3 separate regions of the Homo sapiens genome follow, and regions 1 and 2 are each linked to region 3. The links come from fine-mapping of genetic effects on gene expression. A gene starts in region 3. Each other region holds a variant in brackets. All regions are shown on one strand. Distances are from middle to middle.

The links. PIP is the estimated chance that this variant, and not a neighbour inherited with it, causes the effect.
Region 1: its variant is the best candidate, but not a certain one, in a credible set for the expression of KIF5C in whole blood (TOPMed, PIP 0.82).
Region 2: its variant is the best candidate, but not a certain one, in a credible set for the expression of KIF5C in whole blood (INTERVAL, PIP 0.86).

Annotation. Positions count from the first base shown.
Region 1 is chr2:148,888,811-148,899,957 of GRCh38, forward strand. All of the region lies in intron 1 of KIF5C (kinesin family member 5C), which reads left to right. It overlaps KIF5C-AS1 (KIF5C antisense RNA 1), which reads right to left and starts at 6,204. Exons shown (of 4, transcript XR_001739733.2): 1 at 1-6,204. The variant T/G (reference allele first, on the strand shown) is at 6,704.
Region 2 is chr2:148,936,968-148,948,114 of GRCh38, forward strand. It overlaps KIF5C (kinesin family member 5C), which reads left to right. Exons shown (of 26, transcript NM_004522.3): 4 at 317-421; 5 at 4,643-4,691; 6 at 4,968-5,023; 7 at 5,706-5,793; 8 at 9,932-10,056. Among named protein-coding and RNA genes, the nearest start is that of KIF5C-AS1, 48 kb to the left of the region's middle. The variant G/T (reference allele first, on the strand shown) is at 4,352.
Region 3 is chr2:148,870,757-148,881,903 of GRCh38, forward strand. KIF5C (kinesin family member 5C) reads left to right here and starts at 4,471. Exons shown (of 26, transcript NM_004522.3): 1 at 4,471-4,987. The coding sequence starts at 4,862. KIF5C-AS1 (KIF5C antisense RNA 1) reads right to left here. Exons shown (of 4, transcript XR_001739733.2): 3 at 6,256-6,586; 4 at 2,241-5,439. It also overlaps the pseudogene USP8P2. RefSeq lists a silencer at 4,295-4,764 and enhancers at 5,137-5,715, 5,716-6,295.

The DNA of each region.
Region 1 (11,147 bases), 18 kb after region 3:
CCACAGATATACAGTTCTGCCTTTTTTTCCTTTTTACCTAAATATACTCCATAAACAGTTTCCATGTTGTGTAATATCTTCATGTTTCTACTTTTCAGTGATTGCTTAAATGTCCATTGGGCTGATAGGTCACAGTTCGCTAACCCATCTCATTGTTGTTCATTGGGATCTCCACTTTCCCTTACTCTAGGTGATGGGCTAATGAGCATCTGCATGCACAGAGCTGTGTTCTTTTGTTGAATTGTTTCTGGAGTATAAATTCTCCAGAAGCCAATTTCCTGGAACCAATGCTGTGAACATTTTAATTTGATCCTATGAAATATTATCCTATTGCTTTCCATACAGGGTCTACTGATTCCTACAACCATCAGGAATGTATGAGTGTCCCATCTGGTGGTTAATTCATTTTTTAAATAAAGGAGATGAATCACTTGAAAATATTTGGAGAGCAATGGTCTGGGATTCATGTATCTTAGAATTTTTTTCCCTGTCTTTTCCTCTGATATATTTGAATTGTAAACTAATTGTATAACTATTTAGCAAACTATTTTAACTTGGAATATTGTTGCCAGTCAGCACTCTGGGGGCCAGGCTGGTGGGAGGGGAGTCTCCTGGGCTATATAGAGGGAGGAAGGACTTGGAGGGGTTGCTGTACCCCACTCCCCAACATCCATCAATTGGTGGAGGAATTGGTTGGAGATGGTGATTTGCACTTGGGACTAACTCAGGGTTCTTCTCACATGCTCACAGATGTAATTATTTCTGCTATTGCATTGGATGAACTTCAGACCTTTGGTATCCCAATAGCAGCACCCATGGGGATCCGTTTCACTTAGATGATCCGGCACTATGTTTGACTGCTTCTGGTAGGAATCCATCCTTCTTCTGGGAGGTGTGGTGACACCACTTACAAGGCATTACTTCATGCTTTGATGGTTATGGATACTCAGGGATCCGCACGTCTTTAGTTCTGGAAGAGCTCAGCCACCAGGCACATCATCCTCTGGGCATCACTGGCAAGCCCAGGGGCTGGGACAGGAGAACCTGAGTAAGGTAAACAAAAGGAAAAGCAATATGAGGAGGAAATTACGGTGGAAAAAGAGAGGAAAGGAATGCTGTGGGCCCCCTTTCTGGGTGTGTTTGTTGTCTTACTTTAGAAGACACAGCATGTTTCCTTTTCTACAAAATTTATTTTGAGTACAAAATGCTGCTCTTTATTGCGTAGGTTTAGTCACTCAAATACAGAGGTCCTTTTTGGTGCCTTAACTATCATGTTGAGTACCATTTACTTAAGAAACTAACTGGTTTGTGAAAAATTTACCTATACTGCTGTTATACCTATTTATAAGCTATAAATAATAACTTTTAAAATGTTTAAATAGAGACACTTTTTGCATACAACTTAAAGAACACACAAGGCACAAAGAAAAAAGGAAAGATGGAATAACAGTTTCTACAGGGGAGAAAAGGTATTCAAGATGATCACTGTTCCAGCCTGGGAAAGATAGCAAGACCCTGCCTCTACAGAATATTTTTAAAAATTAGCCAGGTATGGTCGTGTGTACCTGTAGTGCCATCTGCTTGGGAGGCTGAAGCAGGAAGATCACTTGAGCCCAGGAATTGGAGGCTGCAGGTAGCTATGATTGCACCACTGCACTCCAGCCTGGGCAACAGAGCAAGACCCTGACTCTAAACAAAAAAAAGAGCAGTGATCACTTTGTGTGAAAGGACAAGGAAGCATGTGAGCCACTTTTGAGAGGCCTGAGTATAGAGGAGAGAGCAAGGTTGCTAGAAAGGAGGGGATTGGATGTGGAGGGGCTTGAAAGAGGGCTAGAGGAATTGAAATTTGATTTAGTTGAGTTGGTATTCCACTCTATCCTATAGCTGGATCAGAAATACTCCCATGAGACATTTCTCCTTAAATGTTGTGTCTTTTGACCTCAAATAACCCTTTTCAGGTTCCCATGAGGACGGGTACTGTTGAAGTTTGCATTTCACAGTTTTATGGCTGGTAGCCCAAATGAGTTTCAACTGTTACGTGTTCTTGACTTAGCATCCAAAAGGATAAATATATGAATATCTTATTTAATTAATAGTTGGAGGATGACATTGTTCTGGCTACTGGTTATCATATATATTATATATATAGATCACCAGATTTCAAGGAATTGATATATAATGAAGTATGCATAAATTAAGCCACATTTTAAAAGTAAAGTATAATAAAGTAATTTAAGGCATTTTTCTGTTGGTATAGATGTTCCCTGGAAGAATTTTGCATTGTGGGTCCCATTTGGGATATTGCATATTTCAGAGTCTCCTGAGTGTACAGTAGTAGTTTCATGTCTGTTGAACTTGCTTATCATTTTGAGGGAAGAGGTGGTAGAAAACAATCCTATAAATGGCTTAATATTGGCAAAATTCCTTTAGCACTAAATTTCCTTCCAGAAGATGTAATTTATTCAGGAAAGTGAATATGGAAAGTTGGAGAAAAGGTGCTTTTCAACGTGGATACTTAGGAGGACCATATTTAGAGAAAATCCTCCAACCTTTTTAAGGCTAAGGATTGCTTCTTCTTTTTTTTTTTATTATTATTTTTTTCCTATTCACGTCACCTCAAACCAGACACAAATCTAGGCATTAATGTGTGCACTATAAATATCAATTAGTCGAATGTCTTGATTAGCAGAACTGCAGACAATGTATGTATTACTGCTCTTCTCACAGACCTTTATGGGCCTATTTCATGCAGAGCAATTTTCTTCTTACACCAACAAAGTCATATTCTTCCTCGCTTGTGAAATATTGTAATTCTAACAGTGTAGTGACAACACTTAAATAAGTGCTTTACATATATGAAATCATTCATTTTATTTTTATTTTGTATTTATTTTTTGTTTTTTTGAGACAGAGTCTCACTCTTGTTGCCCAGGCTGGAGTGCAATGGCGTGATCTCTGCTCACTGCAACCTCCACCTCCCAGGTTCAAGCGATTTTCCTGCCTCAGCCTCCGAAGTAGCTGGGATTACAGGCATGCACCACCATGCCTGGCTAATTTTTGTATTTTTAGTAGAGGTGGGGTTTCACCATGTTGGTCAGGCTGGTCTCAAACTCCTGATCTCAGGTGATCCATCCCTCTTGGCCTCCCAAAGTGCTGGGATTATAGGCATGAGCCACTGCATCATTCATTTTAATCTTCAGTATGACCCTATGAGGTAACTGCTCTTGTCATTTTCCCTCTTGCCATTCTGCAAATGAGGAAACTTGGGCATAGAGAGGTTAAGCAAGTTGCTGAAGGTCACAGAAGAGTAAGTTGTGGATCCAGCATAGTGGGCTCCAGCATCCTTGCTTTTAACCATTTGCTATGTTGCACCTAAATTTTGGTTCATACCAGGAATTGAGAATGTTTGAGTGCACAGCATTTTCTAAACTAGAATTTCTCCGAGGCACTAGTTCTTTGAGATATTACCTGATAAAAGGATTTGATGTCAATCAAATGTGATAAGTGTTGCTCTCATTCTCTGCCTCTTGGAGGCTGCCTCTTTGAATCAGCAATCCTGCAGTAAATGGAATAAGCATACCTAGCTTTGTTGTTCCCATTAGCAACCGATTAGACTGAGACGTAAGTTTGGGAACGACTATAGGAGAAGAGAGCTGTAAACCTGGGCTATACTTAAAAGTGGAAGAATTTTTTCCATCTCTGTTGCTTGCCCTTGCATTCATCTCAAATTATGTATGAAGTCCCAATTGGCTTCTCTGTCATGCTGTGATTTCCATCTGAAAGGCTGTTTAGGACCTTCCATAGAATGCAGTGCCATTCCTCTCAGGGTGTGGTGCATTTACTTGGAAACCTCTTAGGCTACACTTATGAATGTTTAGATGTACTATTAATCCACATGGACCTGTCCACAGAGAAAGGATTATGATGCTTTTCTTGTAAAAACCTTTATTTAATCTCTATTCTTCTCTGTCTTAAAAATGGAGAGATTTATGTCTGCTTCTTAGATTTCTAAGTCCATCTGCTCATTCAGCCACACTGCTAAACTGTCTTCTAAAAAATTTTCAGTAGATTTTGAAAGATATATCATGAAGATAATTTTTTCTTCTTCAAATAATGACAGTTTTGTTTCCTTCTTTCCAGATGTAGACTTTTACTTTCTTTTTTCTTATCTTATTGCATTGGATTGGACCTGCAGGACAGTTTAAAATAAAATCAGTGATACTTAGAACCCTTGTCTCGTTCTTAATCTTAGAACAAGGTTTGCTTTACGTTTTTAGTAGATATTTATTGTCAAGATAAGAAAGTACAGTCTATACCTGGCTTGTTTTGTTTTTAATCACAAATGGATCCTGAAGACCTTGACTGGCTCTTGCTTGAATTGCAGTAGTCTTGGAATACAATTCCCTGTTTCCTTTCTACTCTTTGGTCTCTTTTGAACACTGTTGCTAAACTCTTCTTTCCAAAGTGCCACTCAGATTTATGCCAATTCTCTGCTCAAAAACATGTAAGGCTTTTCTTTTGCTCACTAAAATAAGTTTGAACTCCCCAACTTGGTTTCTGTGATTCAGCAAACCCCTCCACACTATGTTCCCTTTAGCCTTTTGCCTTGATGACTGTACTTCACTTCAGGACTCTGCCTTTCTCAAACCTAACTATCCATTGTGTCCTAAACTCAGTCTGCACGTTCACTCGTCCAAGCCTTTATTGATGAGGTTCCCTCTTCTTCGAGTGCCATTCCCATCTATCTGTGGCTGTAAATTTGTTCTCACCCTAGAAACTCACAGTGAGGTATTTCCATTTCTCTTTAGTCACTTCCTTCTTGGAATTATCCCACTTGGAGTGTGAGCTCCTCTCAGGTCAGGGTTTGCTTGATTTATTTTCATATTCTCAACACATGATTCCGAATGGGTACACATAATACATGATAAAATGAATGAATGAATGAATGAATGAATATTTCTTGTGGCACTTACATTCTCATTTTCATGATTATTTTTAGTCTCATTACCTCCCTACATCCCATTATCGCTTCCACCTGAGGACTAAAGAAGCTGCCTACATATTGCTTTTGTGCAATTCACCGTCTTTGGACCAAACTGCAAATGCAGGCATTTCTTAGGGGAGCACAATTCATTTATCTTACCTTCAAGCAACTCACTGTTTAGTAGAGGAGACAGATGGATAGAAGTGCACACACACACACCCCACCACACACACATACACACACTGGGAATACAGTACCACTGACAAGTGATTGAATAGTACTAAAGGATTATGGAGCATGAAACACCTTTAAGGGTGGGGCAAAGTGGTTTTGCAGTGGTTTCATAGTAGTTTGCAAAGTGGTTTCATTTTCCACAGAATGAAAATAGTTTTGTATTGAATATCCAAACTCCATTATCTTCTATCTAGTTATCCAGTTGGCAGTGCCAAAAGGAAAGAAATTAGAGATTCACTAAGTACAGAAAATGATTGCCTTGAAATGATTTCTCCTTCTACCAAAATATAGAAGCCACATGTACAAAACACTTTTCTCTTTTTGCAACTTGCTAGTCATAAAATTATTTTAATGTGAACTAAAAGCTGGCATCATAAAGAAAGTAAGGTCCAAGAAGTTCTAAATTGAAGACATTAGTATAAATGGACCACACTTAAAATTCTATTGATAGTCCTCAGCTCTGAAAGGGAAATGTCTGTAATTTACCTAAATTGCCTTGAAATGAAAAGAAATAAGAGACTTCCTTCCTTGGATGTCTGTTTCCTGGTGTTTTCCTTATAACCAGGCTATAACCAGTGATTGAATTATTATTACAACCCTGTAGCAATTATTTTCATTTCAAAAGAGGGCAAGTTATTTTCAGCCAAAGCTTACATTTCAAATAAGTTTAGTACAATATATATATATATATATAGGGTGGGAGGGAAGATTAAAGGAAGTATAAAAGTAATCACAAGTGTTCAGTAGTTTCTTTTTACTTTTTTTCTTTAATTTTCTTTCATTTTTATTCCAAATATTATATAAACATTTTAGGTTGATTTAAAAAAATTCAGGAAGTTAAGATTTGGAAAGTAGAAATGCTCCTTATCCCCTCTCCTCTCCCCAAGAATAAGTATGAACTGATGGGCGTTAGGTTATTCTAACACCTTACTTTTATAAATTCTATTCTAAAATACTTAATATATATAAAATAATATATATAAAACAAAAAATTATGAGATGTTCTAAAGAAATTAACACCCATGAGGCCACCTTTTGCTTAACATCACTTTACCAATATGCAACCCTCCCTTCATCTCAGCTGTTATCCCCCTCACTCTGAAGCAAGCACTCCCTGGAATTTTGCTTTTTTTGAGATGGAGTCTCTTCCCAGGCTGGAGTGCAATGGAGTAATCTCAGCTCACTTGCAACCTCCGCCTCCCGGGTTCAAGCGATTCTCATGCCTCAGCCCCCTGAGTAGCTGGGATTACAGGTGTGCACCACCACGCCCGGCTAATTTTTGTATTTTTAGTAGAAATGGGGTTTCACCATGTTGGCCAGGCTGGTCTCAAACTCCTAACCTCAAGTGATCCACCTGCCTCAGCCTCCCAAAGTCCTGGGATTACAGGTGTGAGCCACCGCACTTGGCCCTACTTTTATCATTCTCTATGGTTTTATGGCAAACATTTTTTTGGCCCTAAATGATAGATTGTTTACTTTTTTTTT[T/G]ATCTTGAATCTCCAAAATATTTATAAAAATACTGTATATATTTGTCTGTGACTTACTCTTTTCTCTTAACATTTATGTTTCAAATGGTCAAAAAACATAGCTTACGTAAATTCTATTTAATATAACTAGCGTATTAGTTTGCTTGAACTGTCAAAACAAAATACTACAGACTCAGTGGCTTAAGCAACAGAAATTCATTTTCTCAGAGTTCTGGAAATTGAAAGCCCAAGATCGAGGTGCCAAGGTTGGTTTCTGGTGAGGGCTATCTTCCTGGCATGTAGATAGCCACCTTCTCACCGTGCATGTCCTCACATGCCTGCTTTTCTGTGTGACACACACACACACACACACACACACACACCCACAGAGATCTGGTGTCTCTTCCTCTTCTTATAAGGACATATGAATCCTATTGAGTCAGAGTCCCACCGTTATCACCTCATTTATCCTTAATTACCCCCCTGAAGGCCCTATCCCCAAATACAGTCACATTGGGTGTTAGGAATTTTGCTAACCTCCAATGTGGGGCTTCAACAGTTAAATTTTGGGGTGGACCCAGTTGTGTCTATAACGAGTAGCATATACTAAAGCCATTATATGCTGCAAGGGGGTTGAGAGATGTGAGAACTCAGACCCATCCTCTGAAGCCAGGAAACCCATCCTCAGCTCATGAAGGGTTTCCTGGCTTTTTCCAAATAACAAAGTTTAGATTCCCTAGAAGAGAGCTCTCAGCGAGCCCTCCTAGAGAGTGGCTTGTGTGAGCAGTGAACAACACATACGTGAGCTAAGCCTGCAAACAAAGGAGTAGAGAGGCCACGTCAGCAGCATGCCAGCTTTTCCTGGGGAGGAGTGGACATTATTGGACCTTGAAGCCTGAGTATTGGAAGATGCTTGGATATCCAGCTGCTTCTTTCACAATGGGGTGGATGGCTACATGAAAAGAATTCTACAGCAATCAGACCATTTCATGGACTGCCTCCCCTCTGGAGCATCACGATGCTGATGTGTATCCTGTTTTATTCAGTGAGAAAAGAGAATCCCAGGCGAATGTTTTGGTAAGGGATTGAGAGTGTACTGGAACAGAGAATGAAAGGGAGGTAATTCTCTTAGCATCATTATGCCTTGCTGGAACTGTCTGGGACAAAAGACAATAGAAACCTAAGAAGTTAAAAATTAGCCATTTGGAACTGAGTTTTTGGTAACTATCATCCTGTGAAAGGCTAGCCTATTCCAGAATTCTGTGATGAGAACGTTTTTAGTAGAGCAGCAGTTTTCCATTTGTTTTTGACTATGAGATCATGATCCTTCCTCTCTCTCTCTCTCTCTCTTTCTTTCTGATGGAGTCTCACTCTGTCACCCAGGCTGGAGTGCAGTGGTGTGATCTCAGGGCTCACTGCAGCCTCCAGCTCCCAGGTTCAGGCGATTCTCCTGCCTCAGCCTCCTGAATAGCTGGGATTACAGGCACTCACCACTACATCCGGCTAATTTTTGTATCTTTAGTAGAGATGGGGTTTCACGATGTTGGCCAGGCTGGTCTCAAACTCCTGACCTCAGGTGATCTGCCCGTCTTGGCCTCCCAAAGTGCTAGGATTATAGGCATGAGCCACTGCGCCCGGCCAAGATCATGATTCATTTTAACAAGAAATACAAATATATTGCAACTTAGCACACAGACACACATCTGAAATAATAGTTTTATGAAGTGACACTGTTAATATATGTGATGTCCTCTAATATTTTCTATTCTACTCTGTCTCATTTTATTTTTTAAAATGCTGCTTATGATCTACTAAGTTTAATTCATGAACCAGCACATAGTAGACTAGGGTTTCTTGAACTTTTGGGAGTTATTATAGCTTCCTTTCAAAAATTGAATTTTCCCTAGCTCATTTGAAGGGCTGAAGGACATCAAAATCTTATTTTTCAGCATTCTCTAGTCCTGCTCAGCTCAATGCTCCACCTCACAGACATTATAAAAGTATGCGATATTTATTAATGCAATAAATATTTTTGAGTCCCAGCTCTGGTCCAGACACTATGCTAGGTACCAGTGAAATAAATTTTCCAGATTAGTGGCATGTTTGTTAAGTGTGTATAGAATGCATTTAAAAATCATCCTGTGAGCCAGGTGATGTGGCTCACACCTGTAACTCCAGTACTTTGGGAGGCCAAGGCAGGTGGATCACTTGCAGTCAGGAGTTTGAGACCTGCCTGGCTGACATGGTAAAACCCTGTCTTTACTAAAAATACAAAAATTAGCTGGTTGTGGTAGTGTACACCTGTGGTCCCAGTTACTCAGGAGGCTGAGGCATGAGAATCACTTGAACCTGGAAGGCGGAGGTTATAGTGAACCGAGATCATGCCACTGTACTCCAGCCTGGCTGACAGAGTAAGACTCAGTCTCAAAAAAAAAAAAAAAAAAAAAAAAAAAAAAAAAAAAAAAATCATCCTGTGTGCTCCAGGGAGAGGTGGTGCTGGCTAGCAGAGAAAGCTCAGGGTTTGAGGGAGTGGAGAGGAGTTGAGCCCTGATTTGCACACTGTGCCTTCCTCCCATCAAAGACTGGCTCTAAGGCCTTCTGCATGTAGATCACTGTGGGAAGTCCTGTCTTTTTCCTAGCCCTCCCTTCCTGCCAAATGTCCTGTCTAGTCCACATAGGAATGGAGACCTTCAGGCACCTAGGGAGTGGAGAGTCCTAGATTGAGAGGCTCTCTCCAGTCTGAAAAAGCCAAAGTTGCCAGTTCCCTGCAGTAGAATAGGCAGGCTCATGTTGAATGTTACCACCAAACCAATCATTAAATGCAGAGGCCACAGAGCCCTGAACTGAGTATCTCATGAGACAATTCTCATTTCCTCTGTAGTAGGCAGAATAATGGCCCTGAAAGATGTCCACTTCTTAATCCCAGAACCCGAATATGTTATGTTGCATGACCAGTGGGAATTAAGGTTGCAGATGGAGTTATGGTTGTTAACCATTTGACCTTCAAATAAAGATTGTCTAGTGCAATCACAGGGATTCTTAAATGGGGAAGAAGGAAGCAGAAAAGTTGAAACCAAACTGATGGCCTCATGAGACTTGACGGGCCATTACTGCTTTAAGGATACAGAGGGGTCATGCGAGCCAAGGAATACAGGCGGCCGCTAGAAGCTGGCAAAGGCAGGAAAACGGAATCTCTCCTAGAGCCTCCAGGAAGAAAGCAGCTCTGCAGGCTTCTTGACATCAGCCCAGTGAGACTCAAGTTGGACCTCTGACATCCAGAACTGAAAGATAATAAAATTTTGTTGTCTTAAACCACTAAATTTCTGTTAATTTTTTATAGCAGCGAAAGGAAACGTCACCCTACTACATGGTATTATTTAATTTTTTTTACAAAGCAAACACAAGTTTTTACCAGAAGATATCTGTTCCTGTTAGAGAGCAGCAACGAATGTTCATGAGCTATTCTCTATGAAGAAAAACAGTAATATTTTGAAGGGTTTATGTTCACATTAATAACCAAACATCTAGCATTCAGAGAAAATTTTATATGAAATGGAGACATTATGTATATAATCTCTGCTAAAATAAGAATTGTATTAGGTGCTTGCTATATAGAATATTAATTAAATAGTATTTTTTTCAGAATTCAGATTAGCCTATATAGTTCTTTCGTCATCGAACACCTTTTAATCTTATTTTTTTAAGAGTCAGTGACAAAGCATAGAAAGCCATATCTTACTCTTTCCTTTTAATGTTATTTTTGTTTCAAGACTACTTGCTGCTTTATTGTTAAATACCATTGGCAATGTCAGCTTTTGGATTAACGAAAATGGAACAGGTGAAGTAAAGCAAATTAAAGAGATTTATTTTATTCTCTTAAATGAGAACATCTAGATGTGCTTATGCTTGGCATAAGAAAACAGCTGGGTCCAGGCGTGGTGGCTCATGCCTATAATCCCAGCACTTTGGGAGGCTGAGGAGGGTGAATCACCTAAGGTCAGGATTTCGAGACCAGCCTGGCCAACATGGCAAAACCCCATCTCTACTAAAAATACAAAAAATCAGCCGGGCGTGGTGGTGGGCGCCTGTAATCCCAGCCTCTTGGGAGGCTGAGGCAGGAGAATCGCTTGATTCCAGAAGGCAGAGGTTGCGGTGAGCCGAGGTCGCGCCACTGCTCTCCGCCTGGGCAACAAGAGCAGAACTCCATCTCAAAAAAAAAAAAAAAAAAAAAAAGAAAACAATTGGATAATTACTACTCCTCAGTTACCAACAGACTCCTTAAAAATGGTTGCAATAGATTTCCTCAGCCAAGTCATGGGTATTTCTTTCCTGAATTCCATGAGGTTGGGCTTTCCCTTCTCATATTTCTGTGTATGTCTCCTGTGTTCACAGCTGAATGTAGGGTATGCCTGGGCATTAAGGCAACAGAATGATTTCAGATCTCATGGAAAACAAGTGCTTGGCC
Region 2 (11,147 bases), 66 kb after region 3:
CTCCTCCTCACCCCACACTAGCCACATAGACTCTGATTTTGTTTCCTTGAGTGGCAGCTGGAGGCAATAATGTGGGGCCTCAGAACTTGGCAGAACAAGTGCTCCCCTGCTGGATAAACAGGCCAACACAATGAGTTTTTCCACCAACTTCTGGTCTGTTGGCAAGTCAGGTAGATGCCCAAGGGAGCTGGCAGGCACACGTGGGTGCTTCCTGCTCCACCGGGTTCTGTCTGAGGAACCCAGAGATGGTTCTCCCTCTCTCTCATGTGTCTCCCAGCATGCTTTAACTGCCCGTGTTTGTATTTTCGCCCACTAGGGGAAGCTGCATGACCCCCAGCTCATGGGGATCATCCCACGAATTGCCCATGATATCTTTGACCATATCTACTCCATGGATGAGAACCTGGAGTTTCACATAAAGGTACGTATTACTGATTGGTCCCCAGAGAAGACACTGGGCCCCAGATAACGTTTCTTATACCTCCTCCTTTCAAGAAGATATAAAAGATGATCCTACTAATTTAAATGACATTCTTGTGGTAAGCAGAGCCCTCTTTATTAGTGACCTAGGCTAACAGGTGTCTGGAGGGTTTGCTTGAAATATCCACATAATGAAAGCAAAAGCCTTCTTTAGGAGGAAATCATCTTGATTGTTGCCCAAATTCTACCCTTTATCCTCTGGATTTCTGTGGGTATGACTGAAATGTGTTTGTGTTTGGGTTAGGGCAGCATTTTCCAAAGTGTGTTCTGTGGAACACAGTCCCTTGTGTTATTAATGGTGGGCTAGCAGGGAAAAGGGCTGTAAGGCCAAATGAGCTGGGAAAATGCTTTCTTGAACAGTGTTAAGTTTATCACAGGTTTCAATATGCTCTGCAAAGGGGACATGCATTAGATTACATTTCCCAGCTTATTTGAATGTAGACACATTTCTCCTCCTAAGAGTATCACAGACTTGTGTTTTGAGCAGAGTGTCACAGAGCAGAACTCTGAGAAATGTTGGGAAGAGGAATTCTCTTCCTTTTTATCTTCCCCCTTGTATTTTGTTTTTGTTTTAAACCAAAACTTGTTATATGACTTAAATTGGCATTAAAAGAGAGATTTCTACTCTCTTACTGTAGCTGTTAAATAATCAAATTTGATAGTAGGGTATATTCATTGGAACACCTCTTTTGCAAGTGGCTGAAAGGCACTTGTTTAAGCAAATAGAGGATATTGTTTATAAGATACAGAATCTGACAGTGGGCATTTTGTGGAGGATGAAGTGTGGAGGGCAGGAAATCTAAGCCCTGTTTTTCTTTTTAAACTTTTTAAACAATTGAGATATTGTTCACATACCGCAAAATTCATCCTTTTAAAGTGTATAGTTTGATGGTTTTTAATATATTCCCAAAAGTGTACAATGATGATCCTTATCCTAATTCTTGAGCATATCGTCACCTCCAAAAGAAACCCCAAACCTGTTACAGTCCCTGCTTTTCTGCCCCCTTGCTTGACTTCTTTCTCTTGTTCTGGAGCATCTTTCTCTCTTTTTGGTGGGAGAAGGGGTTGGCAACATGGCAGCTGCTGCTCCACCATTCCCTTATTTCCAACTCTAAATTCCCTTGGGCAGGGACTCATTGGCCCAGCCTACATAGGTGCCCCCCTTGCCCGATGAGCTGTGTCCAGGATGCACATGCTGTCTGGGGGCCCCCACTGTGGCTGGGGAGGGTGAAGGGGCAGTTCTAAGAAGCCTCGCTAAGCAGATCTGCTAAGAGATTTCCCTTCAGGCTGGGATCTTAGTGCACCAGGCCCATCTGTTCAGAGATGAGGAAACGGAAGTTTAAAGATGCAGGGTTAGGCTGGGCACAGTGGCTCAGACCTGTAATCCCAGCACTTTGGGAGGTTGAGGCGGGCAGATTGCCTGAGGTCAGGAGTTCACGACCAGCCTGGCCAACATGGTGAAACCCTGTCTCAACTAAAAAAAAAAAATACAAAAAAAGTAGCCAGGCATGGTGGTGTGTGCCTATAATCCCAGCTACTCAGGAGGCTGAGGCACGAGAATCACTTGAACCTGGGAGGCAGAGGTTGCAGTGAGCTGAGATCACTCCACCACACTCTAGCCTGGGCGACAGAGAGAGATTCTGTCTTAAAAAAAAAAAAAAAAAAAGACGCAGAGTTACAAGGCCCAACTTAAACACCAAGTTATTGATAAAACTAAGAATAGACCCTAGGTCTGACCAACCGCACATGCGATACCTTTTCAATTATATTAAACTTCTCCCCTTACTACTGTATACCTTTCGTAAATGACATAAAAAGAAGGCACCAACTGTTTGCCCAACTATAAATTACATCTAGCAAATCACTTTTCCTTAGGATTCCTTTTGTTGGCTAAAGCCTGCTTCTCCTTCTTGCCAAGGTTCTTTATATCTAAGGATACAGAAGCTTGTTGCTTTGATGGGATCAAGATTTAGAAGCTTAGTGCTTCTTTAGGGCTGTTTGCATTTAAATAGCTTAAACTACTGCAGGGTTCTTATGTGATAATCCTGGAATAAGATGTTAAACCAATTACTGCCCTCAAAATAGGGTCTTGTGTTAGAATCTTATTAAGATAAAAACAGCCCTAGCATGAAGTTAGGGGAGGAGAGGAACAACACTCTTAAGTCTCTAGGGCTGAATTTTACAGTCTGGATTTCTGTGTTGCATTTGTACTTATGCTTACTTGTTTTATAAATAATAAGTGGGCAAATTAGTTGCTGACTACTTTGTATTCTGAACCGGATAGTGAGAGGCTAAATCAAGAAAAAGAGGACTGACTAAGGCAATATCGAAAATCTGCTCCTTAAATGAGTCCCACAGAGGTTTTAAACTTTATTTCTGAACGTCCTATTTCTTAATGCCAAACAATGCCTATTTATTTTTCTTCCGCCTAGTCTCACAAAGTATTTTAAATGACAAAACAACAAAATCACCACCCTCGCACACACACCAAAAGCAGAAATTAATGAAATCAGAATCCTGTTTCTACTTACATTAAATGTGAATATGATTCTAATTGCCAGATTTGCCAGTATCTAGTTTGTGACTTTTTTTTAGATGTAATTAATTTTCTCTGTAATCTATGGAAATAAGGCCATATGTTTAAGATCTCAAAAATAATAGACAAGTCTTAATGAACATCAGACAATTCTGAAATAAATAGAATGCGCTGAACCAGGGTGGAGTTGGCTGCAGGAAGGACTGGGTTAGAGATGTCCAGGATTGGAGGTCAGACAGACCCATAAGGATGTGGGGAGTGTGGCAGCATGAAAGATTAGAGAAAGCTGTAGGCGTGAGTCTTTCAAATGTCACATAAGTGTGTCCATGAGAGATGGGCCTCAGGGACAGGGAAGTCTGACAGGTGTTCAAGTAGGCAGATGTTGCTAGGGATACAGGCAGCCAGGAGAGATGCCCAGCAGTGGATTCCAGGGCTCAAGCTAGGACCCCACATCTCAGAGTAGCTGGGATGGTTCCAGTCAGGTAGTTCCAGACCGAGGCACATTAAGGATAATGGATCAGGGCTGAGTCAGAGCTGGGACCAGTGCTGGGTTAGAGTCTTTGCTTCCCCTTGACTGGTCCAGAGCTGGGATGTAGGGATGAGGTTTTACCTGAGTAGTCACATCCCAGCTTTACAACTTTACAACTGTTTTCCTTTCTGCCCACTCCCTTGTTTAGATTTCAAAAGCACTTATGAACATAGGGCAGATAAGTTTATTGGGTAGGCAGACAGCAGATGTAAACAGAGTACAGAATCCTAGAGGGGGATTTTTGACATCGTAAAGCCCTATGGCTTCATGTGACAGATGGTACAATTGAGGCCTAGGGTCTTGGTTATGTGTGAATTGAGTCCCTAAGACCACATATTTAGTTAAAGCAGGTCTCAGACATCAGCCAGCATAAGAATCGCCTGGGCAACTGAGAACCAGATTCCTAGTTCCTTTTATCTGGGATTCGGATTCAGCAGGACTGTAGTAGGGTTCAGGGTTCTGCAGTTCAAACAGGTTCTTAGGTGATGCTGATGAAGGTGGTGCTGTGGCTGAGCCTTGAGACTAATGGGAAGGCCTCCTTTTCTTCTCACAGTCTAACCATCTTTTATCAAGTCCCATTTTGTTCAGATCTTTCCTGGATGCACCAGAGCTGGCCACCATTACCAGCTCTTGCTCAGTTACCTTTCTGAGCTCTTGTAGTTCTAAACACACTGCCCTTGCCCTCTCCTGGCTTCTTGCATGTGAACATTTGGGCTAAGTCTCCTTCATGATACTGTCAGTATCATGCAATAAGGTGAGGCCTACTGAGTGTTTTCTAAGCGTGCTTGGTGCTCATCTAACTTAAA[G/T]CCTAGAGTCCTCCTGTAAGTGTCTAGCACATGATGTTAAGAACACTTGAATGACAACCAAAGGGAGCTGTGATGTGTGTAGGTGGAGAGTGGTCCACACTTAGGGAAGCGTAGAGCAAGCGGGAAGTAGGGGAATCCCAGTAGAGCTGGCCAGATTTTAAGTCTTCACTTTGAACCCCTCTTCTTACTCTTCTTAGCCATGCATGATGAAAGCTTTCATAAGTACTAATAATGGCATTTTTGAAATACACTGCGGCATGTCTATTCCAAGCTCAATTTGTTTTTAACTAGGTTTCCTATTTTGAGATCTACTTGGACAAAATAAGGGACTTACTTGATGGTAAGTAACCTCAGTGCTTGTCCTTTATTTGTTCTGTAACGAAAGTCCGGGGAGGTTGAAATGGTTTATCACACTTCTGCTTAAGGAATTAATGAAAATTTATAGAGATACTCTGTTGCCTTCAGGGTATATGTTTATTCTCAGCCAAGGCTTAAACTTGCATATTGCAAAGAGATTAGATTTGACTGTCTTTGTAACAAACTTCCATTTTTCCTCCAATATAGAGTCTTTAACTTTTATTTTCTTCTTTGCCTGCTGTCATTCTCATCTTTTTAGTATCCAAGACCAACTTGGCTGTTCATGAAGATAAAAACAGAGTCCCGTATGTAAAGGTATGAGGAAGATTTGATTGGTGATGCAATTAATTTCTCTCCAGTCTCTGTCATAATAATTATTACATAAGATGTGCAGAATATTATCTGTAAAGAGCATATAGGCATTTATTCAGGCTCCTTATATTTAATATTCATCTGGTTTTAAAAATTGACATTTACTTTCTTCAATTGTATCTTTCCTTTATGACATTATTATTTAATATTGTTCACATTTAAAGAGATTTTGATATTGAGTGCAACTGTTTTTACTTTGCAGTAACGCCTATTATAGCATTATCTGTGGAACATCAAAGTAGCTAATATTGGTGGCCATGATCATAAATAAATAAAGATAGAAGGCAAAGCAAAACTTCATCCATTTCTTCTTCTCTCATTGATTTTCTTCTTTGATTTTCTGTCTTCTTAAAGTGTTGCTGTTCAGTATGAATATGTACTCAAAAACCTAGGAAAATTTGACAGTTCTTTTTTTGGTTTACGTCTATATTTCCTAGGGCTTGCTCAGACTTCTCTTTAATGTAGAATTCAAGCCCTGGGCAAGGAGGAAAAGTTGTTGGATCGATATTTCAGCCTTTCTATTTATCTGCACCTCTAGAAGATAAACAGGAAAATGTTTCAGCCTTTCAAAATATTGTTGCTTTTCAACTCTTTCAGTGGTGAACCTGAACTGATTCTCTTCCAGGGGTGCACTGAGCGGTTTGTGTCGAGCCCTGAGGAAGTCATGGATGTAATAGATGAAGGCAAAGCAAACCGACACGTGGCTGTGACAAGTAAGCATGGTGGGGGTGTTTCCTCCCCTGCAGCTTGGGAGACAGATATCTGCCCACCAACCGAGGGGGGTGGGGAATTAGGTACAAATGAAAGAATGCATGGGAAGGTGATTAAAGAGCAGTGCTCGGACACAGACGCCAGGGTATGTGTGCTATGAGTATGTCTAGGCAGTCATGGGAAAGGGTGCCTTCTGCTGTCCACAGGACTCTGAGGTCTTGGAGATATTGGGTGAGACTTACTGGACCCTGATAACAGCCTAAGCCTGAACATTAGGAAAAATAAACAACCAGCCAACCAAAGGGAGGGAAAGAGTAAGCTCATCAGTTTATTTATTTTGATCATGTTATTGTTCAGGTTAAAAAAAAGTTCCAAACCAACAAATTCTATAATATGTTGCAGTCACACACATGGAAATAAACCATGTTGGATTTCTGCCTTCTGTAAAAAAGAAAAAGAAAGGGAAGAAGGAAGTCAGAAAGCAGAGCCAGGAGCTTTAGGGAAAGCCTTCCGATATGTTACTAGCAGACACATTCAGATCGGCTCATTGGCTCTGCAGTTCCTTCCTCAGTATGTTCATTGCATCTCAGGGAAGCAGTGCATATGGGATTTGGGCAGCAGAGGATCCGTGAAAAAAGACAGTTGTCTATCTTATTAAGAGGGATGTGGACAAATGACAGTGAGTTCATATGAACAGAAGCTGAGAGAACTAAGGGTTTATAGCTTGCATGAGGGAAAAAAATCTGGAGGAGGGTGTGTGGACAATGTAATATATCTTACCGTGTTGAAGGTGCTGACACTAAGAAAGAGGGTCAGCTTGTTCTGTTCCATCTCAATACTTAGAATACCCATGATTGTTGGAGCTCTAGGGAGGCAGATTTCGACCCCTGTGAGGAGAACTCTCCAACCCTTATAGCTGCCCCAAGTGCTGCCTGCTACCTAGAGAGGTAGTGAGTTCACTGTTATGTTGTAAAAGAGATTCAGGCATTGGTTTCCTGACTGGTCTAGGCTCTTTAAGTCTCTTCTACCCAAGACTCTCTGATTCTGTGGTCCAGAACTGTAATTCTCAACATTTTCTCTATCTGAGCAATGTATCAGATGATATTCATGTATATAGCAACTTTCATAGGTGAGCCTATTCCTGGATGAAATGTTGGTCAAGCTCCACTTCTTTTTCTCTTGCTTAAAACATGCACACATACCTGAAAGAATGTAAGACAGATATTCTTATAGTAGTAGCATCTCTCATTTACGTTATTCACTCTGTTTCTGAAGCTGTTTTTAATCACAAATTATTTATGGCATACCTGATAATCCATTTTGATGCCTTGGTTTGGAACTGCTAATCTAAAAAAAAATTGCTATTATTCTTATCATTCTGGTAAGGTTTTTCTTTATTATTGCAATAAAATATACTTAATATGAAATTTGCCATCTTAACCATTTTAAAGTGTGCATTTATGTGATGTTAAGTACCTTCACAATGTGTGCAATGTCACCACCTTCCATCTCTAGAACTTTATCTTCTCCAACCAAAACTCTGTACCCAATAAACACCAATTCTTTATTCTCCTCTTGCTCAACCTACTTTATCTCTATGAATTTGACTGCTCTAGGTACCTCATGTAAGTGGAATCATAAAGTGTTTGTCCTTTTGTGACTTATTTCACTTAGCATAATGTCTTCAAGTTTCATCCATGTGGTAGCAAGTGTCCTTCCTTTTTAAGGCTGAACAATATTCCATTGTATGTATATACAACATTTAAAAAATTCGTTTAACCATTAATGGACGCTTGGGTGGCTTCCACATTTTGGCAGTTGTGAATAATGCTGTTATGAACATAGGTGTGCAAACATCTATTTGAGTCCTTGATTTCAATTCTTTTGAGTATATATGCAGAAGTGGAATTTTCGGATCTCATGGTAATTCTACTTTCAATTTCTTGAGGAACCGCTACTATTTGCTATTATTACGATTTTCTATAGCAGCTGTACCATTTTCTATTCCTAACAGCAGTACATCAGAGTTTCCATTTCTCTATATCCTTGCCACTTGTTATTGTTATTATTTTTATAATAGCCATCCAAATGGTGTGAAGTGCTGTTTCATTGTGGTTTTGATTTGCATTTCCCTAATGATTAGTGATGTTCAGCATCTTTTCATGTGCTTATAGGCCATTTGTATATCTTCTTTGAGGAATGTCTATTCAAGGTCTGTATTTATTTTTTAATCAGGTTAATTTGTTGTTGTTGACTTGGAGTTCTCTATGTATTCTGGACATCAATCCCTTATTAGATATATGATTTATAAAATTTTCTTCTATTCCATGGATTGCTTTTTTACACTATTGATAGTGTCTTTTGATATAAAAGTTTTTAATTTTGATGAAGTGTCTATTTTTATTTTGTTGCTTGTGCTTTGGGTGTCATATCCAAGAAATTATTGCCAAGTCCAATGTCATGAAGCTTTTCTCCTGTGTTTTCTTCTAAGAGTTTTATAGTTTTAGTTTTTATATGTAGGTATTTGATCCTTTTGGAGTAAATTTTTGCATGTACTCTAAGGTAAGGGCCCAACATTAATATATTTTTTGCATGTAGCTATCCAGTTTTTCCAACACTATTTGTTGAAAAGACTGTTCTTTCCACATTAAATGGTCTTGACACTCTTGTTGAAAATTATTCAACCATATATGTGAGGATTTATTTCTGGGCCCTTTATTCTCTTCTGTTGATTTATATGTCTGTCTTTATGTCAATACCACACTGTTTTGATTCCTGTAGCTTTGTAGTAACTTTTATTTTTTATTTTTCCATAGGCTATTGGGGTACAGGTGGTATTTGGTTACATGAGTAAGTTCTTTAGTGCTAATTTGTGAGGTTTTGGTGCACCTATCACCCGAACTGTATGCACTGCACCCTATTTGTAGTCTCTTATCCCTCACCCTACTCCCACCCTTCCCCTCAAGTCCCCAAAGTCCATTATATTGTTGAAGTGTGAGACCTTCAACTCTGTTCTTATTTTTCAAGATTGTTTAGGCTATTTGGTATCCCTTGAGATTTCATATAAATTTTAGGATGGATTTTTCTGCTTCTATAAAATATGTCATTGAAATTTTGATAGAGATTGCCATGAATCTGTAGATTGCTTTGGGTAATACTGACAGCTTAATGATATTAAGTCTTTCAATCAATCCCTTTATTTGTGTCTTCTTTCATATCTTTCAGTCATGTTTTGTAGTTTCCAGTGTACAAGTCTTTCTCTTCTTTGGTTAAGTTTATTCCTAAGTAGTTTATTCTTTTTTTGCTATTATAAATAAGGTTGTTTTCTTAATTTTTTGGGTTGTTCATTGTTAGTATATAGAAATGCAACTGATTTTTTACATGTTGATTTTGTATCCTACAGCTTTGCTGAATTAATTATTAGTTCTAACAGTTTTTTAAAAATGAATCTTTAGGGCTTTTTACATATAATCTGGTAAGATGGTTTTGAGAAATGATTGCTGGTGAAGGCTGAATGGGATGGTTGCTGGGGTCTCTGTCTGCTTGGCAGACAAAGACGAGGATTTGCAAGGATTTTTATTTCCAGTACCCCATCTTAATGAAGCATATTTAATTTTTGAAACCTTCTTTGCTGTTAGCATAGGTTGTAGAAGTGTATGTCTTAATCCTTCCTTAGGAAAGTCTTAATCCTTGCTTAAGAAAGCTTATGATATTACTGATAAGGCAAGGCTTATGCACATGACTAAGATAGACTACATCATGTATTAATCATGATGAAGTCTGAGGAATTTAAAGTGAGGCAGGGGAGGAGGTAGTGAATTCTTCAAGGGGAAAGTCATGCTGGAGTAGGAATTTAGAGGATGGGGCTTCAGGTAGAGCTAGAAAATCTGATATCTTAAACTGTTGACTAAGATTTTTAGATTAACTTCTTTGCTCCTTGAAGACATTTAAAATCTTGTATTTCTAGAATGAGCATTGTTTTTCAGAAGAAACAGGGGTCTCAGATAATTTTTAGAATTGACTGGACTTACTTCAATGAAATGGATCTATTAGGCATGACTTGTTATGCTTTTTAAATGAGAGGATTGCTACCTAAACCTACATGTTCTTTGTAGAGCAGTAAACTATTTTCCTTTTCAGACATGAATGAACACAGCTCTAGAAGTCACAGTATCTTCCTGATAAATATTAAACAAGAGAATGTAGAGACTGAAAAAAAACTCAGTGGGAAACTTTATTTGGTTGATTTGGCTGGGAGCGAAAAGGTAATTTGTTCTTTATTTGTATTATCTATAATTTTCCCCTTTTATTTGCTTCATTGTGCAATGGTATAATTTTTATGCTTTTCTATTTTCCTGCTTTAAAGAGCTTTTAAAGTTTCTGAGGCTCTGCCAAGGTGTTATTACATTTAACCCTTTGTCCCTGCTTTCTTTTCTGGTCCTGAGGTCTCCTATTGGTGTCACAGGCAGGTGCTTTGCATGCCAACTCTGATTTATCCCTGATGGGCCCTTATGATGATATGAGGCAACAGTTGGTTTGACTTAGCCTGTGGCAGAGGCAGCTGCACACATGTGGGAGGGATATGAACTTCTGAGAAAAGAGAAAATCCCATGTTGTACCCGACTCTAATAGGCCAGGAACGAGCTTTGCCATTGGAATGTGGCAGTCCTGCCTCTGCAGGTTTGTTTTGCTGATAGAAGGTCTGGAACCTGGGGCGCTCCCTGCATTCCCTGGTTCTCCCAGCAGTAGGCATGGGCTGACGGTGTCCCATGTGGAAGGCCTTGGCTCTCTCATGAAGTGTGGCCTGTAATCAGCCTCAGCGGCAAGCCTTTACTGTTCTCTGGTTTTGTCCGGATTCTCTTTTGTCGTCTACACCCTGACCCATGCCCTCCCAGGCCCTGGCTGGGGCTGTACTCCAGAGCAATAGGCTTCCCAGAATCTCCAGTCTCACTTCCATAGCACCAGTGGAGGCTTCTGCTGCCACACCCTGTCTGGAGGCACTGACCTCCCTCGAGCAACATCATAGAGCAAGGCCATGTGCACAATGCCCTCTGGCCTCCATCATCACTGACATCATGCTGATTGTCCCCATGAAGGCCAGCCTTGAAGCTTGGTCAGTCTCCCTAACTGTATGATTGATCCCCACTTATTGCACTACATCACTGAGTTCCCGTATGCCAAGTTATGGCCACTTACATCCACGTGAGTAATGGTTACTTGGATTGTCCTCTAGTATGCATTTGTAAAACCTGAGCAGAAAGTCATCCGGGTATTTCTAGTTGGGAATCTAAAATTTTACTAGTATGGGGCCGGGTGCAGTGGCTCACGCCTGTAATCCCAGCACTTTGGGAGGCCG
Region 3 (11,147 bases):
TGATCCGCCCACTTTGGCCTTTCAAAATGCTTGGATTACAGGTGTGAGCCACTGCACCCTGCCCAAGAGCTCTAATTTTTAAATAGCTTATTTACAAAGCACTCTATGCTTCAGGTCAAACATTTGTCAAGCATCTGCAATATGCCAAGAACTATACAGATTTCATTACCTAATTTTAAAATTAAATTAAGACCCAGAGAGGTAATAGGATCTATATAAGAATGCTCGAAATAGTGAAAATAGCCCTGTATCTGGAGGTTTAGCTCTGCCACTATCATGATTTCTACTGTACAATATACCCATGCAAGTCACTTTAAATTATTTCATAGGTTAAAGGCCTTTTTACTAAAAAAGAAAGAAAAAATTTTAAATTAAGTCCTTACTCGTGCCAGGACCTGTGCTAAAGTGTGTGTGTGTGTGTGTGTGTGTGTGTGTATATATATAACGTTTCTCATTTAAATCTCCTGAAACCTCTGTAAGATAGGTTCTGTTATTATCCCCATTTTACAGATGGAAACATGAGCTTAGAAATGCTAAGTCACTAGCTAGAAATAATGCAGCTAGTAGGTGACAATTATTTGAATAGAGTCTGACATCAGAGACTGTACTCTTTAAAGCACACACACAGTATTTGGATACTCTTGTATCACAGATAATATAGGGAATTTCAACATGTAAAACAATTCAATTAGTTCACAATTTTAGTCAATTTGGTACATATCATTCACATGCTTATAAACAGAAAATAATAGGAAAAATCAGTCAACAAACACCTGGGGAGAGAGGGAAAAGGCAACTTCATTTCTCTTTTGATAGGATTCTAAATACCACAAATAGGAGAAAACAGCCAAATCAAAAGTTAGGAAATCTGTAACTTCAACCTTCATAAAGCGTAAAGTGTGTCTTTAAGAAGCAAAGATTTAGGGAAGTGCCATTTGGGCACCTCTCACTCTCAAAAATGAGAGAGCTGTTCTCCTTTTTCTTTTTTTTTTTTTTTGCGACAGAGTCTCATTCTGTCACCTAGGCTGGAGTGCAGTGGTGCGATCTTGGCTCACTGCAACCTCCGCCTCCCGGGTTCAAGTGATTCTCCTGACTCAGCCTCCTGAGTAGCTGGGATTACAGGCGCATGCCACCATGCCCGGCTAATTTTTGCATTTTTAGTACAGACAGGGTTTCACCATTCTGATCAGGCTGGTCTCAAACTTCTGACCTTGTGACCCACCTGCCTCGGCCTCCCAAAGTGCTGGGATTACAGGTGTGAGACACCGAGCCCGGCCCTGTTCTCCTTTTTCTTTCTTTTGCCTATTAAACCTCTGCTCTTAAAACGCACCTCCCCCTCTGGCCCTGCCCCCCCCCAAAAAAAGAGGCAAAGATTTAAAAAGTTAACAGGAAAAGACTACTTTATCACATTTAGCTTGAATGCTAAGTAGTAACATTTACTAAGGTCCACAGTTTACTGCTTACTACACAGTTTACCACTTTACTACACAATAACCCACCCTGGACTGATGGCTTCTTCAGGAACACTGAGAGAATGTAAAATACAGGAATCCTGATAATTCTGCATTCTTCGAGCAATCATTATAATCAAGCTGATGTTTTTATCCGTCATCATTGTGTATAGTTCCTTTGTTGTAATTGCTCCTTTCTCTTTGGTCTCACATTTTTTCACTCTTTTCACCATTGCTCTTTTGGGTTTTGTCTTTGGAATCCAATACATTCTCCAAAGAAACTTTAGCCAATGTGCCACCATCCTCTCTTCCTGTTTCCTGCCTTTTTTGTTGTAGTTGCTGTGCTTCCTTCTGCCTGTCCTTTTCCTCAAGTTATTTCCGGACTTCAGCTTCTTTATATCTTAGTTTAAGGCTCTCAGAGAGTCTTTCAGCTTCTTCAATGGCTTTTTTGATGTTTGCAGTTCCAAGTATTGAATGGACGTAATCCTCTTAGTGCTTATTTTCTCTGGTTTAACTTCTGTCTTCTTATTGAGGTCTTTTAGTGAAGAACTCAGGTAGAGTTCTTTAGGAACTAAAGCCACAGCAGGCATGGTGAATTATCTTTACTTTTCCACGTTCACGATAGATGCTATATTTCCTTAAAAGTAGTTTTTTCCGTGGCGTCGGGTGCGCTTCACTAACACCAGCCTTCTTGCCAAAGGCCCATCTCCCAAGAACTCGAGGGAGAATTAGCCTTGGCTACCAAGATGGAATCCAGCCCAGCTCATCATCCTTTGCCCATTTTTAAAATTTTTTTTTGGTTGTGAGTTATAGGTATTCTTTATATATTCTGTATATTAACTCCTTATCAGATGTATTATTTGCAAATTTTTTCCCATTTCATGAGCTGCCTTCTCACTCTGTTCATAGCATCCTTTGATGTGCAAAAGTTTTAATTTTGATGTAGTTAAATTTATCTGTTTTTTCTTCTGTTACCTATCTTTTTTTTTTTTTTCCCTGAGATGGAGACTCACTCTGTCGCCCAGGTTGGAGTGCAGAGGCACAATCCTGGCTCACTGCAATCTCTGCCTCCTGGGTTCAAGCGATTCTTCTGCCTCAGTCGCCAGATTAGCTGGAATTACAGGCACGTGCCACCATGCCTGGCTAATTTTTGTATTCTTAGTAGAGACCAGGTTTCACCAGGTTGGTCAGGCTGGTCTCAAACTCCTGACCTCAAGTGATCCACCCATCTCAGCCTCCCAAAGTGCTGGGATTAACATGCGTGAGCCACGGCGCCCGGCCTGTTACCTATCTTTTGGTGTCCCTTTTCAATTGTTTTGAATCCTACTTAGCCCATTTCCTATATTAAGCCTTCTCAGACAACACTGAGAACTTCATCCTCTGTACTCCCACTAGTTTCTAAGCTGCCTGAGGGCGATGACTTATTTTGCAACCTCCCTTCAAATGAGAGGCCCTACGTTATCTCCCTTGAAAAGGGTTCACTTAATAAATCTAAGTTTACAGAGTGACAGCAAATGCCATTTGCTCAGTTAATAGCTGATGAATGAACAGATGAACGAATGAATGATGACTGAACACAGTGACACACAGATACGTCTCTGTCCACTTGAGATAATCCTGACCTCCTCAGATAAACCAGTGTATGCAAGGTTCTGGGCATCTTCTGGTGGGCTCAGGGAAACTGAGAATTGGATTGTCCTCTCTAGTATATTATGAAGTTGATCATTTAAGATGATGGGTCTCTGAGCCAGAGCCTGAGAATTACTTAATTTAAAAACAGATGAGAAGGTGGCACCTGGGTCTTTTTAATCTACTTCCACTGCACATGAGGAGATGAAATAGAACTGGTACTACTTACAAGGGTTTATAAAAGTTGATTTTAGTAGGTCTGTCCTCTCAGCTAGGCAGAGAACACTTGTATTTTCAGGTATTACCCGAATTTAAGCAACAGATGTGTTCCTAAAATTAACTAACTTATTTGTTTTATGATCATTTGTTCAGCACCCAATAACATCTAACTTTCAAGAGCTTATCCTATATACATGTCAGGCACCGTGCTAGGTGCTTTAAAAGCATCTGTCTTTTAATTCCCCCAGAAATCACAAGATGATATTATTCCAATGACAGAGATGAGGAAACTGAGTCTTAAGGAAATTAAGACTTCTTAATTTCCTCCGCTCTTAATTTCCTCCGCCTGTTGGTCATACATCTAATAAGTGGCTGAGGTGGGATTCACACTCATGCATTGCTTCTTCCTAGGGTAGAATCCTTATTCAGTATGCTGCCCACTATGTGCTAGATGCTACAGACACAAAGATATCAAGCAGATATCACCACCCAAGTGCAGTGCTAGAGACAGGCACAGCAGATTAGGGGAACATCAAGGAGGGCCACCAACTCTTTATAGGTGTTTAGTGAGCTGGGAAAGTCTGAGGAAGGAGGGTTGAGCTAGGTCTTAGAGGAAAAGGAAGTTCTGGAAAAATAGAGTGGACACTCAGTTGTTCTGCCAGCCCGGCACCATGTCTGGGAATACCATCCCTCTTCTTTTGGGAACCTTCCCACCAAGGGATTCCTCCATAATCTTACAAAATCCCTGATTCTGGTTGATTGGTTTAGCACTAGATGCCAACCTAAACCAAGGCCAATCAAACCCAAACTCTGAACAGACATCCATCCTTATCTAGTGGTAGAAGTTGAAGGATGAAACCCAGGGGCTATTGGGAGCTGTTTCCCAAGTGATTTTCTTTTGGGATCAGGATGATCCAGACCCAGTTATCTAGAGATTTTAACCGGAAATATTGGATATGACCTCCATCCGGTTCCGGCTTGGGCAGCCAGACCGGACTTGCAGGCTCTTGGAGGTCGCATCCTGTCCTTCCCCCGGCAGGTAGAGTGACTACAAGTCCCGGGATGCGCAGCGCTCGGAGTCGGGCGGGGGCCGGGCGGACCTCTACGGTGACGTCACCGTCCCGGGGCGGGCCAGGGGAGGGCGGGGCGGAGGGGCGGGTCTCAAGGCGGCAGAGCGCGCTGGTGCTGATGCAGGATGGCTGAGCGCGCAGGAGCCCGGGAGGTCTGAGCCGGGCGAGGCTCGCTCCCTGCGCATCGCCTCCTCCGCCCGCCGCGTGGTCGCGGGCAGGTGGGCCGGGGGGCGCTGGGCAGGGGCGGGGCAGGGCCAGGGCAGGCCGGTCTGCAGCCGGAGGGGCCGGAGCGGAGAAGCTGCCCACCTTCCCGGGCTCGGAGCGGCCGGGGCTGCTCAGCCGGCCGGGCTCGCGATGACCTGCTGAGAAGCGTCGTCGGAGGCTGCAGGAGGCGGCCTAGCTGTGGGCGGTGCAGCTCGCGGCCTCCTCCCTCGTCGTTCCCGGCCCCGGCCCCCCACCCATCCCCGTGCCCCCTCCCTACCGCCGGCCGAGATGGCGGATCCAGCCGAATGCAGCATCAAAGTGATGTGCCGGTTCCGGCCCCTCAACGAAGCGGAGATCCTCCGCGGGGACAAATTCATCCCCAAATTTAAAGGCGATGAGACCGTGGTGATCGGGGTAAGTGGCTGGGGCGTCTGCCTTCCCTGCTGCTCCGCGCCGCAGCTGGGCGCCCCGACGCCCCAGACGCAGCGGAGGTGTTTAGGCCGCCCCCTCGGACATTCCCGCGGGGCTGGCCTCTCGGGTGGACCTGACCAGAGACCCCTCGCCCCGCGCACTATGGTTCCCTCCCGGGCGGGTGGAGAGGCGGCCGGGAGCGGCGGGCCGGGCGGGGGTGGCGGGGGTGGGGATGGGGGGCGAAGACGGGCTCGGCGCCGCCATTGTTCGCCGGGTGGGGGCCCGGGTGGGCCCATTGTTCCCCACGCTCGCCTCGCCGCGTGGGTAGTGTGTTCGGGTGACCCTCAAGCCGGGTGCCCAGGCCCCCTTTAAAGTGTGAGCTCTGCAACCCGCAAATGCTTCTGGGCATCAATCAATTCGATTTACCAAACGCCTTGCCTCTTCTTCTCACGACCCTAGCAAAAAAGAAAGAAAAAGGGGTACAGGAAAATTTCTAGTCGCGTCTCGGAGCTCCCGCGGCAGTGTAGACGCGGCTCCCCGCGGTGTTACACCTGGCTCCGCGCGCGGAAGGCGGAGGGTTGGGGGAGTACTGGTGGCCTCGGTGTCCCCTGGAGGCCTGGTGTGTCTCCCGCTTCCTCTCACGCCTGGCTGCCCTGGATGTGGAGTCCCGGCTTGATCCCTCCCCTCTGGGATGACCTCCCTCCCATGTCTGCAGACCCTCTGATGCGCCTCACGCTGGGTGGAGAGGAGGCTGTGTCCACATCTGTGGGGCGAGGGGGCTCAGAGCGCAGTAGCCCCCTGTGCCAAGAGCAGAAGTTACTTCGTGCGGCTCGGACCCCCCTCCCTCTCTATCTCCCTTCCCCACCTTTTCTCCCCCACCCCCTCCCCCTACTTAGCTCCCTCTCTGCAGCTGGGGCTGCTGGTAGGGGGAGGGAACACCAATGGATTGTAGTTCTTAAAGGAATCTGTCAGATGAAACAAACCAGCTCGGTCCCCCGCCCCTTCCCCGCCCGCTGTCCGTAGCGTGTGTGGCTGATGGTGCCCCCTTTGTATGCGAGCCGCGTGGGGAGGGACCGAGTTAATGGGAGCCTCCCGGTCCCCGCTGACACGTTCCTGGCAGCCTGCTCCAGGCTGCTGATGCAGCCTTCCCGTCCCCAGCATTGATTAAGTGATGTCATCCTGATCACTGAGCATGCTCCGACTAACCCCCTCCTCCCCTTCCTCCAGTGGCTGGTGTATTTAGGTCAAGTGATTGACAGGTGACAGTTTACCGAGGGTATTGCAGGAGTCCGCCTGGCCTTTCTCAAGCGCCAGAGGCCGACGTTTTCCAGCCCGGGCGGTCCCCAGCATCTTTGCCAAGGTTGTCTGCCGCAGTCGCAGCGAAGGGCCCTGGGGACCAGCAGGTGCCAGCTGTACCGTAAGGCGGGAGCTCTCCACGCTAGAGGAGCCTGGGCAAGGCTCTGGCCTCAGGGCTTTAACCTGTACCTGGCTTTAAAAGGCTGCTCCCTTTGACGACCTCTTCTCACCTCCCCATTTTCACAGTCATCAGGAACGTCTGACCTCCAAACGCTGTGTGGATGGGCGATCATTCTGCGAGCTGACCTATGAGGGCAGGAAAGCGGGGTTTTCTCTCTGTTTAGTGTTAAACTTGCAGAGAAGATATAAGCTACGATTATTGATGAGGAAGGAAATTCTGCAGTTAATGGCAGATAAGTGTTAGTGACATATACATAGGCAGTACCTGGGGCAGTTAGTGACTTATTTGGTTTACAGCTCTCAGCCAGTATCTGCCTACAGCCTGATCTGCTACTTTCTGAGCCAGGCTGTGGTTTAGATAGAGTGGGAGTTACTGGGGACATCTAGTCCCTGCCCCTTGGCTTGTAACAATTTTTAAACAAATAATTGTGCAGTACTGGAACATGTTCTGGCAACCCTATTTTTTTCCCAGAGGTTTTGAAGAGCCTGAAGAAGTTTTTCTTCTCCCCTCCTCCCTCCTCCCCCATCCCCTTTCCCCTCTCCCCTCTCCCTTCTCCTCCTCTTCTTCTTCCAGAACCAATGAAATGAAGTAATAAATCATCTTCCTTGACCTGTATGCAAGGCAGAGCTCCTTAATTTTAGAATTATCCTTCTTTAATATGACATTGCTATGAGTATATATTTCCTTATCTAAATAAACATATATTAGTGGCTAAACAAATTAAAACCAAGTCACCATATTAAATAAGAAGTTTAAATAAAAATCATAGATGTGAATATACACATTGCTTTTCAACCGTAAAGTAAGTTTTGCTCATCCTACTATAATCCTTTAATACAACAGTTTTCAGTTTTTCTAAGGTAAACTTTTTATTGAAATGAAGCATTCATATAGAAAACTGTTATCATAAGTATACAGTTGGATGACTTTTCATAAAGTAAATGCTCCCTGTAACCACCTCACAGACTAAGAAACAGACATTTTGGGACCCTAGAAATCCCCCTTGTGGCCCTTCCAGTCCCTAAATCCCCCTGCTTCAGGGTAACCATGATTCTCACTTCTGATGCTATTAGTTTTGCTTGTTTCTTTTTAACTTTATATTACATAAAACCATAGAGTATGTTCTCTTTTGTGTGTGGTTTCTTGGGATTAAGTGTTATGCTTGTCAAATTCATCCTCATTGTTTTGTAGTATTCCATGATATGAATATACTACAATTTGTCTACTGACTGTTGATGGATATTTGGATAGTTTCCGGTTTGGGGCTAATATGGCTAGTGCTGCTATGAACATTCGTTTATGTATATTTTGGTGAGTGCATGTACAGAATAGAAGACTGCCAGATACTGAAGGGTTTGGGAGTTGGGTTGGCATGTGCCAGGATCCTTCCCATTCCTAATTGATAATGTGGCACTAAAGGAAATGAGGGTTCTGGCAGTCTGTATCATGCCATATGCAATGAGTAGAATGGTCCCAAGTCAATTCAGTTGGAGCCGGCTGACATGGCTCAGTTGCAAGTGAAAACTGTCTGAGATGTACACAACCTTCCTTAGTTCTAGGGGCACAGACTGTGGATGACCAAAGAAGCCCAGATCATCCAGAAATATGTCACCTTCAAACAGAGACAAGTAAAGAATGAATTTTGGTGGAGTTATCTGTTAGTCCAAATTCAGAATCCCAGAAATTCTTTGTGTTTTTGAAACTGGGGTCATTTTTTCCCTTAAAGTTCTGTTTGTTATGGAGATATATTCCAAGAAAGAGATTTTACAGGTGGAGTTTCTAGATTTCTCTTTTATGAAAATGTCCTGTTTGGGAGAAATGTTCTCCATCACTCCTGCAGTTTTTCAGCTTTGTGCAAAGCTGTCTTTCTCTGACCACACCAGCCACAGTCTTTCCCCACTTTGAACTCCTATAGCATTTGTTTTGTATATGATCTCCCAAGTTTTTTGCCTTGGATTATTATTAGCTTTGGTCATATGCCTAATGACATTGTAAGCCATGTTTAGAGACAAGAACTGTGCATGTTTTGCTCCTTTATACTTCCCAGGGCTTTGTCTGTAGAAGGCACTTAGTAAATATTTATCGATCTCTCTGTGAATTCTGGAAACTTTACTTTGGTATATTTAACATAGTTTACAGAGTTTTTATTGGCCGTAGGCTGTGGGGAGTAGTTAAAAAATAATTTTAAAGATAAGTGCTGTTTCTCTGAGTGGGCCTGGTAAGATAGCATATATAATACTTAAAATGATATAAGAAAATTGGGAAAGAACTGCATTCAGCTTTGGCAAAAATTAGAAGAGCTAAAGATGCTGATGGTGAACTAGAAGTAGAGGGTGGGGGTGGGTAAGTGATTAGAAAAGAGGCTCCCTCCCATAACACATTAATTTTTCAGCAAAAATATTGGATTTACAGCATTTCTCAGAGTACTCCATTAGCTGCTAAAAGTCCTGGTGAGTCATCCATTACTTTGGGTTCTGCCTATTGGTTTTGAAGCAACTGTATTAATGGAAGCTCTCTGACATGGTGAGTTCTCAGTAAAGTTCTTTGAAATGGATTTTCACACTTCACTTTCCTCTTATTGGGCTTTTCTCTTGTTTGCAGTCCTGAGAAAGCAGGTCTTGTTAAAGATGAGTGCTTCCTCCTGAGGGCCTAAGAGCCAGAGCAAAACATCAGCCACAAACCCTAAGCTGGAAAGTGGCCCCAGTCTTCAGAAGCTTAGATTATTTCTTGGCAGTAGATGGATGGGGAAGGGGCCTGGAGACCAAATCCGCGCCTGAGTTAGGATTTTAGAGATTAAGTGAAGAAATACAGCTACACCTTAAAACTTTTCTTCTTTCCACAGTAATGGTCTTCCAAAGCAATAACATTAAAACAATTTTTTCAAATTTACACGCAGTAATACCACTTTTTTTTTTTTCTTTGAGACTGAGTCTTGCTCTGTCACCCAGGCTGGAGTGCAGTGGTGTGACCCTGGCTTATCGCAACCTCTGCCTCCTGGGTTCAAGCAATTCTCCTGCCTCAGCCTCCCAGGTAGCTGGGACTACAGGCGTGTGCCACCACATTCAGCTAATTTTTGTATTTTTAGTAGAGATGGGGTTTCACCATGTTGGCCAGGCTGGTCTTGAACTCCTGACTTCAGGTGATCCACCTGCCTTGGCCTCCCAAAGTGCTGGGATTATAGGCATGAGCCACCATGCTCGGCTTGTTTCCAGTTTGGTATGATTATGAATAAAGCTGCTATAAACCTTTGCATATAGGTTCTGTGTGAGTATACATTTTTATTTCTCTTGGGTAAATATCCAGGAATGGGATTGCTGGGTTGTAAAGTAACCATACGGTTAACTCTGTAAGAAACTGCCAAACTGTTTTCTAAAGTGGTTGTACCAATTTGCATTTCCATCTAAAAGCAGTAACATTTTAAACCAAAGTAAGTTTATTTAGTCACTTTGTCTAAGTGCATTCTAGTCTAGTAGTGTCAGGATGTATCAGTTCTTCATTCCTCTGTGCCCTAAATTCAGAGATGTTTATATCACCTGAAATGGGTTAGTGGTTTCCTTCACATGTACCCTGTGAAATCATGGACTGAGGGAACATCATAGAGAGCTGTAATCTGGCGTGTGTCACTGAGGCCACTCACTATTCACAGTAGGCACACAGTCAGTGAATGGGGTGGGTAGAGGTAGCAGGAAGGGTGAGACAAAACCGAGTGTAGATTCACTAGCTAAAAAAAAACCTAGTTTTTTTTTTTTTTTTTCAAGTTGCTGAGCTTTCCTGGGCATGAGTTTTCTTGTATTGAAAGTGCAGATAATAATTACTTACCTCACAGGGTCATTTGGATGAAATGAAATGAAGTGGTGAGAGAGTGTCTGGCACAGAGAAAATGCTCAATAGGCGCTGATTACCTCCTATGTCTCCTGTTCCCTTGGTGACCTTCCTCATGTCAACATTAGCTTTGGCCCCACAAATTAGTGCCCCTTCTGGCTATCCCCTGAAAACCCTTCTTGCATTACCATTTCTTAGGCATTTGTTCACCCCATTCTCCTGGTTGGAATACCCACTGTTTTCATCTATTTCTGGTATTTCTAACTATCCTTGAAGGCAAAACTCATATTTCATTTAGCTCTAGACTACGTTAGCTGTTCCTTTGTGATCATGCATGTTTGTGTGTGCGTGTGCGTGTGTATATCTTCCCATGTAGCTTTTTCTTTTTCTTTTTTTAATTAAATTTTTGTCTCCTTTACTGTAGTTGTGTAATTGCTTAGTAAATGTATCTTGACTGAAGGTTTTTTTTCCCCCTTTCCCTGCCTGAAATCACGACTCCATAAATGCCAATTTCTGCATTTCTGTAAATAACTTGGGTATCACTGGAGACTTCCCTCTGCCTCACCTGTGCTTGTCTGGCCCGACTCCCCTATTTAATGATGTTTTCCATTCTCAGCTCTTCTTCCCATTCACAGTTGGAAACCTCCCCCTACCTTTGATTTCCCTTTAGTCCTTACCTCTAAATCATCGTGGTGATTTAGAGGGTGAACTCACTGGAATGGGGATGCTTGCATGTGTAATCTTACTAAGAGCTAATAGAAAGGCTAGGACCAAACCTATTTGTTTATGGGGTGATGTGAGCCCGTCTAAACAGTTTCCCACCTGTGTCTACTTATGTAAAAAAAAGCAAAAACAAATTGCCTA